Homo sapiens: one gene and its partners. The protein of the gene in region 1 purifies or fractionates together with the protein of each later gene. This does not show direct contact. Each region holds a gene or a part of one and is shown in the gene's direction. Other genes may lie near its edges.

Evidence for each region.
Region 2: the proteins of ANP32A (region 1) and VBP1 fractionate together in Homo sapiens (co-fractionation; one large-scale study listed by BioGRID). This does not show direct contact.
Region 3: the proteins of ANP32A (region 1) and ANXA5 purify together in Homo sapiens (affinity purification with mass spectrometry, with the first as the bait; one large-scale study listed by BioGRID). This does not show direct contact.
Region 4: the proteins of ANP32A (region 1) and PDLIM5 fractionate together in Homo sapiens (co-fractionation; one large-scale study listed by BioGRID). This does not show direct contact.

Annotation. Positions count from the first base shown.
Region 1 is NC_000015.10:68,814,396-68,817,895, reverse strand, and holds part of ANP32A (acidic leucine-rich nuclear phosphoprotein 32 family member A), read left to right. Parts: intron 1-3,500. UniProt on the Homo sapiens protein: Multifunctional protein that is involved in the regulation of many processes including tumor suppression, apoptosis, cell cycle progression or transcription. Promotes apoptosis by favouring the activation of caspase-9/CASP9 and allowing apoptosome formation.
Region 2 is NC_000023.11:155,233,460-155,236,900, forward strand, and holds part of VBP1 (prefoldin subunit 3), read left to right. Parts: intron 1-2,769; coding exon 2,770-2,908; intron 2,909-3,441. UniProt on the Homo sapiens protein: Binds specifically to cytosolic chaperonin (c-CPN) and transfers target proteins to it. Binds to nascent polypeptide chain and promotes folding in an environment in which there are many competing pathways for nonnative proteins.
Region 3 is NC_000004.12:121,672,981-121,676,480, reverse strand, and holds part of ANXA5 (annexin A5), read left to right. Parts: intron 1-3,500. UniProt on the Homo sapiens protein: This protein is an anticoagulant protein that acts as an indirect inhibitor of the thromboplastin-specific complex, which is involved in the blood coagulation cascade.
Region 4 is NC_000004.12:94,654,442-94,657,941, forward strand, and holds part of PDLIM5 (PDZ and LIM domain protein 5), read left to right. Parts: intron 1-18; coding exon 19-199; intron 200-2,985; coding exon 2,986-3,106; intron 3,107-3,500. UniProt on the Homo sapiens protein: May play an important role in the heart development by scaffolding PKC to the Z-disk region. May play a role in the regulation of cardiomyocyte expansion. Isoforms lacking the LIM domains may negatively modulate the scaffolding activity of isoform 1.

The DNA of each region.
Region 1 (3,500 bases):
CTGTGGGGGGCGGGGGGAGCGGAGTCTTGCGCCATCACCCCGACGGCCTCCCGCGCGGAGGAGGCAGGGGGAGCCGGCTTTGGGGACCCCCAGTTGTGCTATGAGCCCCGATGGGGGTTTCCGCCCCGCGCCAACGGCCTGAGGCTGTGCTGGAGAGTCACGGCGGCCGCGGCGCCGGGAGGACGACGATCCTCTGTGCAAATGCCCCCCCCCACGCGCTCCCTGCCTCCCCCGCCTCCTCTCCGGGGTTTCGCCGTTCCTCCTGCAGGCGCTCAGACGTAGTTAAATGTGGCCTTAAGGACTAACCGATCGCTCTGGTGTTTGCTCTTTCGGCGGAAGTGATAGAGTAAGGGGAACATTAAACATGAGGTTCTTTTGGCGGGGGTGAGGGGTGTCGCGCACGCGACTCTAGTGGCCCTGACTGAAGCCAAGGACAGCAGCCTGTTCCCCGGGAGGGAAGAGTTGTCGATCCGTTGGGGAAACGCCCTCCCGGGCTGGGCTCTCCGGGAAGGTAGGTCGAGCTCCGTGTTTCAGGTGGATGTTGCAGCGCCCTGCAGGCTAGGGGAACCCTCCTCCTCGGTCTAAACCTGCTCCTTCCCCCTTTTATTTTTGCCTGGGAGAAGGCAGCTACAATAGTAATGAGATCCTAAAGCGAAAGAGAGGGATGAAGGTTTGCTTTTGAAAAAAGTAAACCGCCTTTCTCCGGATGTTGACTTAGGAGCCAGGCAATTCGTCGCGTCGGGTCCTCCGATGCTGGCATCTCTGAGAATTTTAAAAAGCCGATATAGGTGCTGGTTAAGCACCTCACGAGCTGAACTCTGGTATCTGTGCAGAAACTAACTTTCATGGCAGTGTCCAGCAGAGGCTGCCTTGGAAGCCAGCTTTTACTTTGACCTTTGGAATACATCGCATGATGTTTTCCAGGCTGACTTACTGCCTAATTGGGTTCAAGTAGCATGATATTAACTACAGTTTATGCAAGCCAACCAGGAACTCGCAGGCAGAAAATTGAGCCTGAGTTCCCCTGTGGTCATAGTCAGTTGAGTTCTGCTGCTGATAGTAGTTTCGAGTCTGAGGGGCTCCATGATGAAGATGGGCTTAGGAATTACACAGACCTGGGTTTGAATTCCTCCTGCCACAAGGAGGTAGGATACGTTTACCTGCCCTTGTGACCTTGGGCTGGTGAGCTTAACCTACCTTTTTGAAGCTTTGTTTCTTCACCTGTAAAACGGAATAATCCTATTTAATCAGTAAATGATGACAAAATTGGTTTGATATGGCCCTCAGTATATGCTGTCTATATGACAGTTTTAGTCTCGGAGACATATCAGGGTGCTTCCAGGCATTACTTTGAGCTCCTCCATGGTTTAGGATAATAACAATATTAGCTAGTGCTTACATAGCAACCACGCTGTGTCTGGCACATTTCTTAAGTGGATTACATGTATCAACTAATTTAGTCCCCACAACAGCACTATGAGGTAGGTATTATTATTATCATCGTCATTGTGCATATGGAAATTGAGGCATACAGGGGTTATCATGTGACCAGTGAGTGGCAGAACCAGGATTCAAACTCAGCCAGTCTGCATACTCAACCTCTACACTCTACTGCCTCCTTTGAAACACCCTTTTTTTCTTAAGATACTGTAAGGAAGAGCTTTTTCTTCTCCAGCTTTGGAGTGGTGCCACCGTAGAAAGAGAATGAGTTTTCTATTATTGAAGACGCTGAAATGAAGAGTGGATAGCATCCTGGTTGGAGATATTAGAGGGCCAGGAGGTTCAGGACCAGGGGCTGTGGATTATCATTTTATGAAGCCTTGCACTGAGTTTGCTTTAGCACATCACAGTGGGTTAGGTTGAAGTGGATCTGGCCTTCAAGGTGCTGGGGGACACATTTTGAGTAAGGAGAAGACAAGCAGGAGCTGCTCAGGCAGTCTGCATCTGCAGCCAAAAAAACTCAACATAACTGGCATGTCTTTAGTATCTGGGACATAGTATGCTCATAGCACCTCATGGATCATCTCACTTAATCATCCCAGCAACTCTTTAAGGGTAGGCCAAGCAGTGCAATGCCACCCCTGTTGTGAGGATGAATCATCTGATTTTTGGAGAGGTTGAGCAACTGGTAGGTGGCACAGCCGGGTTCTCGCACTGCAAAACCACAGGCCCCTTTGGTGGACAGAGATTCCGAGGATTGGATAGTCCATTGGGTCCATGGCCCATTACCAGAATCACGTGAGAGGCATGTAAAATGCAGATTCCTGGGCTCCACCCCAATCACAGGAGTACCACAGCAATCACCAAACTATAACTGAGCTCCCAATTTTTGTACAGTCATGAGCTAAGAATTATTTGTACATATAAACGTTGCAGTCAATTTGATGGTATGGAACACTCTTTGAATCCCAATGACTTGAAATGTTATTCTCCCAAAAAATAAGAAATCCACTTGTCTCGTTAACAGATCTCGTTACAAAAAAAAAATTGTACTCAATATATTCTGAACTTTATCAATAAAAGAATTGTGGAAATGTGTTAGATTTTTCTCTTGTTATAAAAGTCCCTATGTAGTGTTCTTAATTTTGGCTCTTGATAAAGTTTACTATCTGCCCCCTTTGCAGAAGAGGTTTGCTGAAAAGGTGGTTCAGTAGATTGGAGGGTGGGCCCCAGGGATCTAGTGTTTTGCTTTGTTTAAGCAAATGGCAAGCCATATATTTGGGTGGTACTCTCAGGGTCTTTTTAAGTCCTTTTATGTGTTCTGTGCCCTGTAAGTAATTGGTGCCTAGTGGAAATCAGCCTCAACCCAGGAACCTCCATAGGAAGAGAAATTATCCTTGTTACTGGTTTAGTATGAAGCACTTCTCGTCTAGAGTTCTGTATAGCCAGCTGAAATTCTTCGTTGTGTACTCAGAACATGTCAAAGCCTTCTGTGTATCTTGTAGTTGAATGGTCACTCTTAGGTTCTAGATGTCATCTCAGAGATAGAAAGAGCTTTGGGTTGCAACGGTTAGAGCTTTGAGGCTTGAACCAAAGGCGGGGCAGCTGTGCACCCAGTGGCTCACATCAGCCTTTCAGAGCCCAGATCTTTGAAAATGACAGATAATCCTGGAATCTCTAGTTTTTGGCCTGCTGCTTTTCTACCATGCGTGTTTCCTGGGGAATGAACCAGCAGCATAGTGGCTTTGAGTTTCAGAAGTTTTTCCCTCTAGCGTCTTGTGCCTGAGCTAATGAACGGAAGGAATGGTTATAAAATTGGCCAGGTCAAGGGGAGGAGGAGATAAATTCAAGGGGACAAATCCTAGTCCCCATAACAGCAGCCTGTGTTATGACAGCACACCACAGCCCCAATTCCCTCTTTCCTGCTGCTGCTGCACCACCAGCCTCTCAAGGTGGCTTACTCTAGACTTACACAGTTGGCCATCTTTCTTTTTTTTTTTCTTTCCCCATAGCAGTATGAGACTTGTTTCCTTTTTTATTTATTTATTTTATAATTTTTG
Region 2 (3,441 bases), on another chromosome or scaffold:
TTCTCTGCTCTTAAGGGCTCATATAACTAGATTAGGCCTACCTAGGCAGTCTGTATATTAAGGTCAGCTCTGACAAATGATGTAAATATCTCATCAGAGTCACAGATTCCAGAGATTAGAATGAGACAGCTGTTATGGGAGCCATAATTCTTGCCTACTATAGAAGTCAGTCACAAAAGAGCACATATACTGTGTCATTCTGTTTATGTAAAGTTGTAATACAGGCAAAACTATGCTGTAAGTCAGGTTAATGGTTACCTTTGCGGTGGGGGTGCTGGTGGTAACTGAAAATGTTCACAAGGAAGCTTTGGGGTGTTGGTGATAACCTGTCCTTGATCTGGATGCTGGTTCCATGAGTGTGTTAAGTTTGTGAAAATACATCAAGCTATATATTTATGATATGAATACTTTTCTATATGTATATAATATTAAATATAAACAAAAAAATCAGAAAACTGCATAAAGCAAAGTGTAAGTGAACGAATCTGTTGTCAGGGTTCAACCGGAGAAATAGAACCAGTAGGATATAGCTAACCTGCATAAACTTGTGTGCAAAGGTTCAGGTTAATATGTGTGTACCTCATGGTTTCATACTGTTACCTCCAATTCAAATTCAGGACAACAGAGTTTTCACTTTAGTTGTTCCTCTGTTTTTTTTTTTTTTTTTTTTTTTTTTTTTGAGACAGAGTCTTGTTCTGTCGCCCGGGCTGGAGCGCAGTGACGTGATCTTGGGTCACTGCAACTTCCGCCTCCTGGGTTCAAGTGATTCTCCTCCTTCAGCCTCCTGAGTAGCTGGGATTACAGGCACGTGCCACCACGCCCAGCTAATTTTTGTATTTTTAGTAGAGACGGGGTTTCGCCATGTTGGCTAGGCTGGCCTTGAACTCCTGACCTCAAGTGATCCACTCATCTCAGCCTGCCAAGTGCTGGGATTACAGGTGTGAGCCACCGCGCCTGGCCCCCCTGTTTCTTCTATATCAAGAATCCTGGTTTTCAGAAATACCAAGGGTGATAGAATTAAGCTAGACAACATTACTATTCACACGCAAAGCATTCTTAGAATAACACCACCCAACACTGTTACCACTGACATTTTTGCATATGTTCTTCCTGTCCTTACACATTCTTTATAAGGTTGTTCCCACATTGTTGGAGCACAGAGCCATTATATACTGTTTGCTCTCTCTCTTTCTCTCTCTCATCTTTCATTTATCCTAGTTCTTCGTGTAAATATTGAATGCACATCATAGTCTTTATGTTGATGTCCCCCCAGTCATCATCCAGTCATTTTGATTGTATGTTACTCATTCGTCTGATAAGTAGATTGCCTTAAGATTTATGGGAATGATATTCCCTGAGTTATCTCATGTTGCTGACAACTTGTCTGTGGCCTTTGTACTTGAAATTCAGTTTTGCTGGATATAATATCTTAAACTCACATTTTATTTCCTTGAGCATCTTATACAGTGCCCCATTTTCTTTTGTTGTAAAGCATCACTGTCAAAAAGTGTGAGGGCAAACTGATTTCTTTCTTCTATGAGTGATGTGTTCTTTTTGCCTGGATGCTCAAAGGACTTTTGGGTCAGTTTCCCCCAGGTATACAAAGTACCCTTTCATTTCATTTTGCGTGTCATTTCACCCAGTGTGTGTGTGTGTATGTGTGTGTGTGTGTGTGTGTGTGTGTGTAGTATGTGCATGTGTCACATTTCAGGAACATTTTGTTGAAATGAAGGATTTAGAAATTTTTTTGGTCCCCTGCTTTGGTTTTTTTTTCTTTGTGGATTCTTGTTATATTTATGTTCAGTCTTTGCTTATGTTGAATATTTTTGTCCTATCTGAATTTTAATACAGTTTTCTAATTATGGATTGGATTATTTGGTCAATAAGTATTTATTTGGCATTTACTTTGTGCCAAATACTTTCATGTTGTCTTGTTTAATCCTTACAACAATCCTTTGAGTAATTTTAAAATTGCATTTGTGAGATGAGGAAAGTGGTTTAGGAAATGCCAGTGGTAAGTCAGGTGATAGGGAGAGTTCAAAGCTGTAAAAGGTGTGGCTTCCCAATTCCAGGGTACATGCATCCCTGAATGTTGGCAGTAACACTAGATCTTCAGAATGACAGACACATTACCTTGTCTTAATCCCTAACATCTGTCAGAAGTAGTAGGAAGGGACAGGTAAAAGCTAGCTGTCTTTTTTACCTGGTCAAATATAGATGATAATAAATGTCTTTGAAAAATTTTAAATTAATATCATATCTCAAGCTCAGAATTTATTTAAATTGATACAAACAACACTATTTAGTTTCACGATGGAGGTAGTAGAAAGATAGGATTTTGTATCTAAACATACTGGTTTCTTATCCTGATTCTCCCATTTACCCACTAGCTATGCCAGCTAAGGAAACCTGAGCCTTCATTTCTTTAACTGTGAAGAAGACAACTTTGGCCTCAGCAGGGTTGAGGATTAAATGATACAATGTATGTAAATATATTCTTTAACCAAGGGGTCAGCAAACTTTCTGTAAAAGGTCAAATGGTAAATATTTTTGGTTTTGTAGATCACATGGTCTCTGTCTCAACCACTCAGTTTTGCCATTGTGGTATGAAAGCCTGAGTAGAGAATAGCTGGGCTCCAGTGAAACTTAACTTACAACAAAAGGCAGCAAGCTGGATTTGACCTGAGGGCTGTAGTTTGCCCACACTTTACTCTAACCTATAAAGCTCTGTGTAAATATTGAGTAATTGTCATGACTTTCTCTCTTCAGGCTAATGTAATGCTTGAATATGATATTGATGAAGCTCAGGCATTGTTGGAAAAGAATTTATCGACTGCCACAAAGAATCTTGATTCCCTGGAGGAAGACCTTGACTTTCTTCGAGATCAATTTACTACCACAGAAGTCAGTATCCTTTCTTAAAACAAAAAGCAAGGGAAAAAAGGAGAAAGATTTTTTTAAAAAAACATTCTTTCATGGGCAGAGGGAGAGCATTAGGAAAAATAGCTGATGCATGCTGGGCTTAATACCTAGGTGATGGGTTGATAGGTGCAGCAAACCACCATGGCACACGTTTACCTTTGTAACAAACCTGCACATCCTGCACATGTACCCTAGAACTAAAAAAAAATTAGAATACAAAAAACCTCCCACATTCTTTCTTACATTGCTTTAGTGGGAAGAATTTCCTTATTAGGCTAATATAAAGGTTATAGATTTTATAAGATAATAAATAAGATATTCGGAACTAGTACTTAAATAAGTTTGTAGATAGATTAGTGATTTTGAAATGTGATGTGGAAACAGCAAATTCACATAGGTGAGTAAGTATTTTTCTTCCAAATATTTTCCCAAGACAACTTTATAACTGGTTAAATAGTTTAATTTCACAAGCATTTAAGGGTCTCCTATGTTCCTGCAACTGTGCTAAGACATATGGGG
Region 3 (3,500 bases), on another chromosome or scaffold:
AAACAAACCCATGGCTTCCACTGAATAGCAGTGGAGTTGGAATTCCTAACGAGGCCTGTCTGACTCCAAAGCTCTTTCTCTTTCACTAGAAGATAGTCAGTGTTATTGAATATTAATATTTCACTATAAGAATATTTCACTGTAAGATATTCAGTGTTCTTGAGTATTAGTGCCTTCCCTGATTTTCTCTATCATTAAAGGGCTTATTAAATATCAACTCAAGCATAGATCTAGCTTAATTCCACCTTCTTTCGGGAAGAGGGCTAGAGCAACCCTACAGAGTTGTACTCCTGTTAGGGGCTTTGTTCAGTACTGAGGTGATCTTACTGCTTTCCAAGCATTGGTTGTGGCTTTGCTAGGAGATAGTGCTGATTCTCTCATTCCTACTGTCAAGAGTAGGATAGGAGTTCTGGGAGCTTTTCAGGGTCACAGTGTAAGAAACCAACTCTAGTCCTCTCAGATGTCTGCAGTGAGGCCTGCATTCACAGGCAGAGGGCAGATTTCCCAGCATAGTTGGTGATGTAATGAGAGCATTGCTGCAGCACGAGGCTCCTGAGGGGAAAACAGTACATTTTAACCTTGTTTTCATTGATTTCTGTCCTTGGAGCACTTACTGGATAGCACTGCTGCTCAAACTTTCATGGGCATGTGGCGCACCTGGGACCTTTAATTGCAGATTCTGATTCTATGGGTCTGGGCAGGGGCTGGGAGTCTGGATTTTGAACATGCTCTCAGGTAATGCCTGCATTCTTGGTCCTTTGATTACTGAGGCTGTATAGGTGACACTTACGTGTCATGCAGTGGATATAACCATTCAGAACCCTGAGAGTACATGTGAGACTGTACATGTGAAAACTGCTTTATGGAGTTACTTTAAAGTATCCCTTGAATGGAATCCAAGCTTTTCTTAGCCTTCCAGTGACTAGGAGCAATACAGAACATGTTACACTGGCTATTATTTTTGATTCTTTCAAATGTATTATTATTAATTAATAAACCTGTTGAAAACAAATAATCTTTTGGCATTATAAAAAGGAACACACCAACTTGTACCTCGTAGCAAGGGCAGCTGGACTGTTATCACTAGTGAGAATTTGAGATTTCTTAATTGAGAGTAAGCTGAGACAGCTAAAGGGCTCTTTTATAAGCTTTTGCATTTTTGTCTCTACTGATACCTGGCACTAAGAAGATTTCTATTATTTGAGAGGTTTGATAAGCCATAGTGAGTCATTCACTTGGGAACTGAACGTTTTGTAGATAATCCACTTTTTAACATTTTTAATGTGTTAAATTGATTTAATACTTTTAATGCATTAAAACAGATTTACCTTCTTCCCCAGTAAATCCTTGTTTTATTCTTTCTCTGGAGGGAGAGTTGAACTCTTAGAGGAAAGAGGGAGAAGGAGAAGTAATCAGGCACTTTTTACTTTTACTGGGCATTTGCTACTGATTACCTGACACTGTTCAGTGCATTATCTTAGTTATATAATCTCCGTTAATGACTATATACACTGAGGCTGAAGAGGAGATTAAGTAGTTCATCTGAGATCTTGCAGATAGACCACATCTGTTTTGACTCCAAAGACTCATCCTTTGCACTGAACCAGGGCTTATGAAACTGTACTCAGGCTGAACCGTAAAGCTTAGGGAAGGGGTGTAAGGGTCCCTCATCCAGATGGATCCATGAATATTGGGCATCCTCATTTAGGAGAAAGGATACTTAGATTAAAACAAAACTGTTAAATATCATTGTTTTACATGAAGAAGCCATCATTATTATTGCATATGATTACTTAATAATAGTTTTACAGTAGATATTGATCCCAAACATAATTCTCCCAAGAAAATTAAAACATTGTGGTAAAAATAACTGACATCTCACCAATTATTCCCATATAACAGGCTTAACTCCTGTACCTACTAGAGAACATTTCTAGACATTTAAAACAGTTGATAAGAAGTGTGTGCATCAATGTCTGTGATATTGTACAAGATGAGTCCTTTACCCATTTAGGTGTTAATGTATTTGTATATTTTATCTACATGTAGAAACATACCAGAAGTAGTAACTAGCACCCTCAGGAAATTGATATTAAATAGCAACTTTTCTTTTCTTTCCTTTCTCTTTCCCCTTTCTCCTTTTTCCTTTTCTTTCCTTCACCTTTCCTTCCCCTCCCATTTCCTTACCCTCCCCTTTCCTTCCCCTCCCTTCTCCTTCCTATCCCCTCTCCCTCCCCTCCCCTCTCCCTCCCCTCCCTTCTCCTTTCCGCCCCTCTCCCTCCCCTCCCCTCCCCTCCCTCTTCCCCTTTCCTTTCCTTCGTGCCCAGGCTGGAGTGCAGTGCCATGATCTAGGCTCACTGCAACCTCTGCCTCCTGGGTTCAAACAATTCTCTTGCCACAGCCTCCCGGGTAGCTGGGATTACAGGCATCTGCCACCGTGCCTGGATAAGTTTTGTATTTTTAGTAGAGACAGGTTTTGACAGGTTGCCCAGGCTGGTCTTGAACTCCTGGGCTCAAGCGATCCACCTGCCTCAGCGTCCCAAAATGCTGGGATTACAGGCATGAGCCACTATGCCTAGCCTGCAACTTCTATTTTCTTATTTTTGTTCTTTCTTAGTTTTATAAAATTTCTCAATGAACTTGCGTTGTTTTTGTAATTAAATTTTAAAAGTTATTTTAAGAAAGGTCTGTGTCATCATGATATAGTTCTAAAGTTTAGATGCATGCATGACTTTCAGAGTTACTGTCTTTTCAGGTTTTAAGAGCATGTTCACATGGCCAGAATTGATATTATTCATTTTTATCTTTAAAATAATTAATTTTAAAATTGAGCATAAAGATACATGAGTCTCATTTTTTTCTTATTCTCCAGAAATATAATAAAAAATAGATCTTTACCACCATAATCTACATTTTTAAATATACTGTGATCAAAACTTCTATATTCAAGCCTGTTATTATCACTTCCTGTCTTTATTTGGATTGCTGCTTGTGGGTATAAGGCCAACTGCAAGTAGCAGCCTCAGCAAATTGCATTCATCTTGCTTTAATATGTAGACTTAGTTTGAAATGAATAAAAGGATAGTACAGTCATTGTAAAGGTTGATTCTTTGGGTTTTAATAAATTATTCTCACGTCAATAAGTGGATTCAGAGTTAACGTTGATGTTTGTATATAAGCTTATTTTTTTAGGCAGCTATACGTGCACAAGAAAGCATATTTTTTCCCCATGTCAAAAAGGAAGTATGGGCACTCAAACTATTCAACCACTACTTATTGAGTGCTTCTATATGCCAGGCACTGTGCTATACCCACAATCTTTTAAAAATTTATTGTGATCTTTGGAAATATGAAAACATTTTATAGCTAGCCTTGGTTAAATCTCAGTTGTAAAGAGAAAATATGAAGTGTACTTTTACTCATGTGCTATTGAACAGCTATAGAACAAGCAAAACAGAAAAGGCAGACAACTTAGCTTCCAGTTAAATCCTTTCCCAGTC
Region 4 (3,500 bases), on another chromosome or scaffold:
CTCTTTTTCTTCTGTCAGAGGACCATTCTTAGTGGCACTGGGGAAATCTTGGCACCCAGAAGAATTCAACTGCGCTCACTGCAAAAATACAATGGCCTACATTGGATTTGTAGAGGAGAAAGGAGCCCTGTATTGTGAGCTGTGCTATGAGAAATTCTTTGCCCCTGAATGTGGTCGATGCCAAAGGAAGATCCTTGGAGTAAGTATTGGAAACGTTTTTATTCTGAATGAGTTTTAAAGTAGAATAATTTTTTGATATGAAAGTCTTCTATCACTTTAACTTTTTATTTTCTTCTTGCTTTATGCCCTCTCTGCTTTCGGCACTATTTATTATTGTAAAGCAAAACTAAATAGACCTCTGTGGAAATATATCGGACTCATGGGGTTAGGTTGTCTTTGGTTTTGTCTCACTGAGTGCTGGCTTGTCTGGTGAAAGTCTAGCCACTGTGGGGAAAAAATAATTTACTGTGGGTGTGCTTCCTCAACAGGAGCCTGTTTGCTCAGGAATGAAGAGGTCGCATAGGACCACACACATCTGAGTTCTTAGAACTGACACCTTCACTGTTTTAAATTAAATTCCATAGCTTTTATAAGAGCAGTATTTCCCTACTTGTCAGAGTTCAAGCACAGGACACTGATTTCATGAAATATATAAAACATGAGGTTTATAAATGATATATTTTTCTTGAATACATACAGTGTTTAAAAATATAACCTCAGTTTTATGAGAGTGCACATGTGATGGAAAAATAATTTTTTTTCCTTTTTTGCAAAAAAAGGAGTAATTTAGGAATCAGATACAGTACATAATAAATAATGAATACATGAATTTCTTGCTCTGGAATACCTAGTTTCCAATGATAAAGTAAGGGTCAGGCATACTTTATGGTGACTAGGAGCTGGAATCTGATTTCAGAAGAAGCCAGAGTACCTGGCTTCACACAAAAATTGGACATGGCCCTGCTGAACTCTAATATACTCTCAATGTGAAAATATGATAATGAAACTCTAATTATTGTTAATTGAGAGAATAGGTAGTATGAATTATTGAGTAGTCTTAAGATATCTCTTAGGATATCCTTAAATATGTCTGAAACGTTGAAGACACTTAAAATTATATATATGTCACCTGAAATATTTCTAGATTATTGATTTGTGTAATATGTTGGGAACAAAGAAGTGGAATGGTTCAGACTGTACCTTCCCAAATGATAACAAATAATTAATAGAATATTCATTAATACTGTTTTAGTGTATCAAGGTATTCTATAAATGTTAGAATAACAAAACAAAGTGAAGTTAGAGTCTTAGACCCAAATAAAGTTCTGGGAAATGGAAATCTCATACTCATTGCCTTGGAGATGGGCCAGAACTTCAATAGCTTGTCTAGATTGTATTTTAGTTATTTGATTACCTGTTAAAGATTTCTCTCAAGGATGGAAAGGGAAGAATATTCTGGAAGCCTTGGGAGATAGTTTGATTCAATATACATCTTCTACAAATGTTCATGGTGAATTTTTTGGATCTAAATGTCTGTTTCTTCCCATTGTCCTTCAGTAGTGAACTGTGACAATTTCTATGGCTAATAAGTCTATATTATTTCATTTTATTTTGATATTTTTTATAAAAGAAAATAGTTCACTCAAGCACAATTAGAAAACACAAAAAATTTAAAGAATAAATTTAAATGACCTAAATATTTACCAATCACAGATAATTACTGTTAACCTTATGATGTGTTTTTTTCTAGTTTGCTCTTTATAAGTAATGTGTTTACAAAATTGTAATCATGCTTTATGTATATGATTTTTTGTGATAAATATTATAGAAAGAGTATTCACTACTCATCCAAAATTATTTTAATGGCTCCATCTTTCTCTCAATCCAAAGAAATGATTTCTTGTAAAACCAACACCCAAAACCTCTTTTACTAACTAATATCTGGCCCAAATCTTTATAACTTGGTATGTTTAACCATTGGGCCATTGCTGACTAGAATATGGTCCAAATTTTACACATTCGAGTCTGTGCTTAGTGCCATCTTAGCTGATTTCCAAAAGCCTAAACACGTGTTAAACTGATTGGATTACATTATATTTTTATTATATTTTATTACATTATATACATTTATATACATTATATACATGTAATATATACAACTATATATAATTATGTATATTTTATTATTTTTATTTATTTATTTATTTTTTTGAGACGGAGTCTTGCTGTGTCACCCAGGCTGGAGTGCAGTGGCGCGATATCGGCTCATTGCAAGTTCCACCTCACGAGTTTATGCCATTCTCCTGCCTCAGCCTCCCAAGTAGCTGGGACTACAGGCACCCACCACCACGCCCAGCTAATTTTTTGTATTTTCAGTAGAGACGGGGTTTCACCGTGTTAGCCAGGATGGTCTCGATCTCCTGAACTCGTGATCCGCCCGCCTCGGCCTCCCAAAGTGCTGGGATTACAGGTGTGAGCCACTGCGCCCGGCCCCATTATGTTTTGTTATTAAATTATATATATTATATTATTGCTTCTAAAATGCACCAAAGTATAGGTTTGTTTTAATTTTTAAATGCTTCCTCCTTCCCCCAGAACTTTTGCAGATAATACCATAAAACCTTGGTAAGTTAATGTTTCCTGACACCCTTTGAGAAGAAGCAGAAAGTTTTGTAGCAAGCATTTATGAAATGCTTACTTTATTCACTGTACATATAATGTATAAATAACATAGTGATCATTCTTTAAGTTTATTGATTGGCATTTGTAAAGAACACACGTCTAAATATGCATCCGTTTAGATGATTTGTGAGTCTGTTCTTAAGTATCTCTTGTTACTTTGAGGGAAAGCTCAAGACAAAAATGAAGTATGTGTGCCTACTTTGGATTAGCTCTACAGGGATTTACTGGTACAGATATTAGAATAAACATTTATGTATTTATTGTCATCTTCTTTTTTTACATCCAATTACCTTTCTGTAACAGGAAGTCATCAGTGCGTTGAAACAAACTTGGCATGTTTCCTGTTTTGTGTGTGTAGCCTGTGGAAAGCCCATTCGGAACAATGTTTTTCACTTGGAGGATGGTGAACCCTACTGTGAGACTGGTAAGATCAGGGAGCCATTTGTTTCTTGAATTTTGAATAAAGGTAAAACATTAACCCTTATATTACTATAAAGCTCAAGAAAATATTAGGCAAAGTTATTTTCTTAATTGTTTTGGAAGCATTTAATGCTGCTCTAAGCATGTAGAAAAAACTATGTAGATTTTTTTTTTTCTTTTGAGACGGAGTCTCACCCTTGTTGCCCAGACTGCAGTGCAATGGCCCAATCTCGGCTCACTGCAGCCTCTGCCTCCCAGGTTCAGGCGATTCTCCTGCCTCAGCCTCCCGAATAGCTGGGAATACAGGCATGTGCCACCATGCTCGGCTCATTTTGTATTTTTAGTAGAGACAGGGTTTCGTCATGTTGGCCCGGCTGGTCTCGAACTCCCGACGTCAG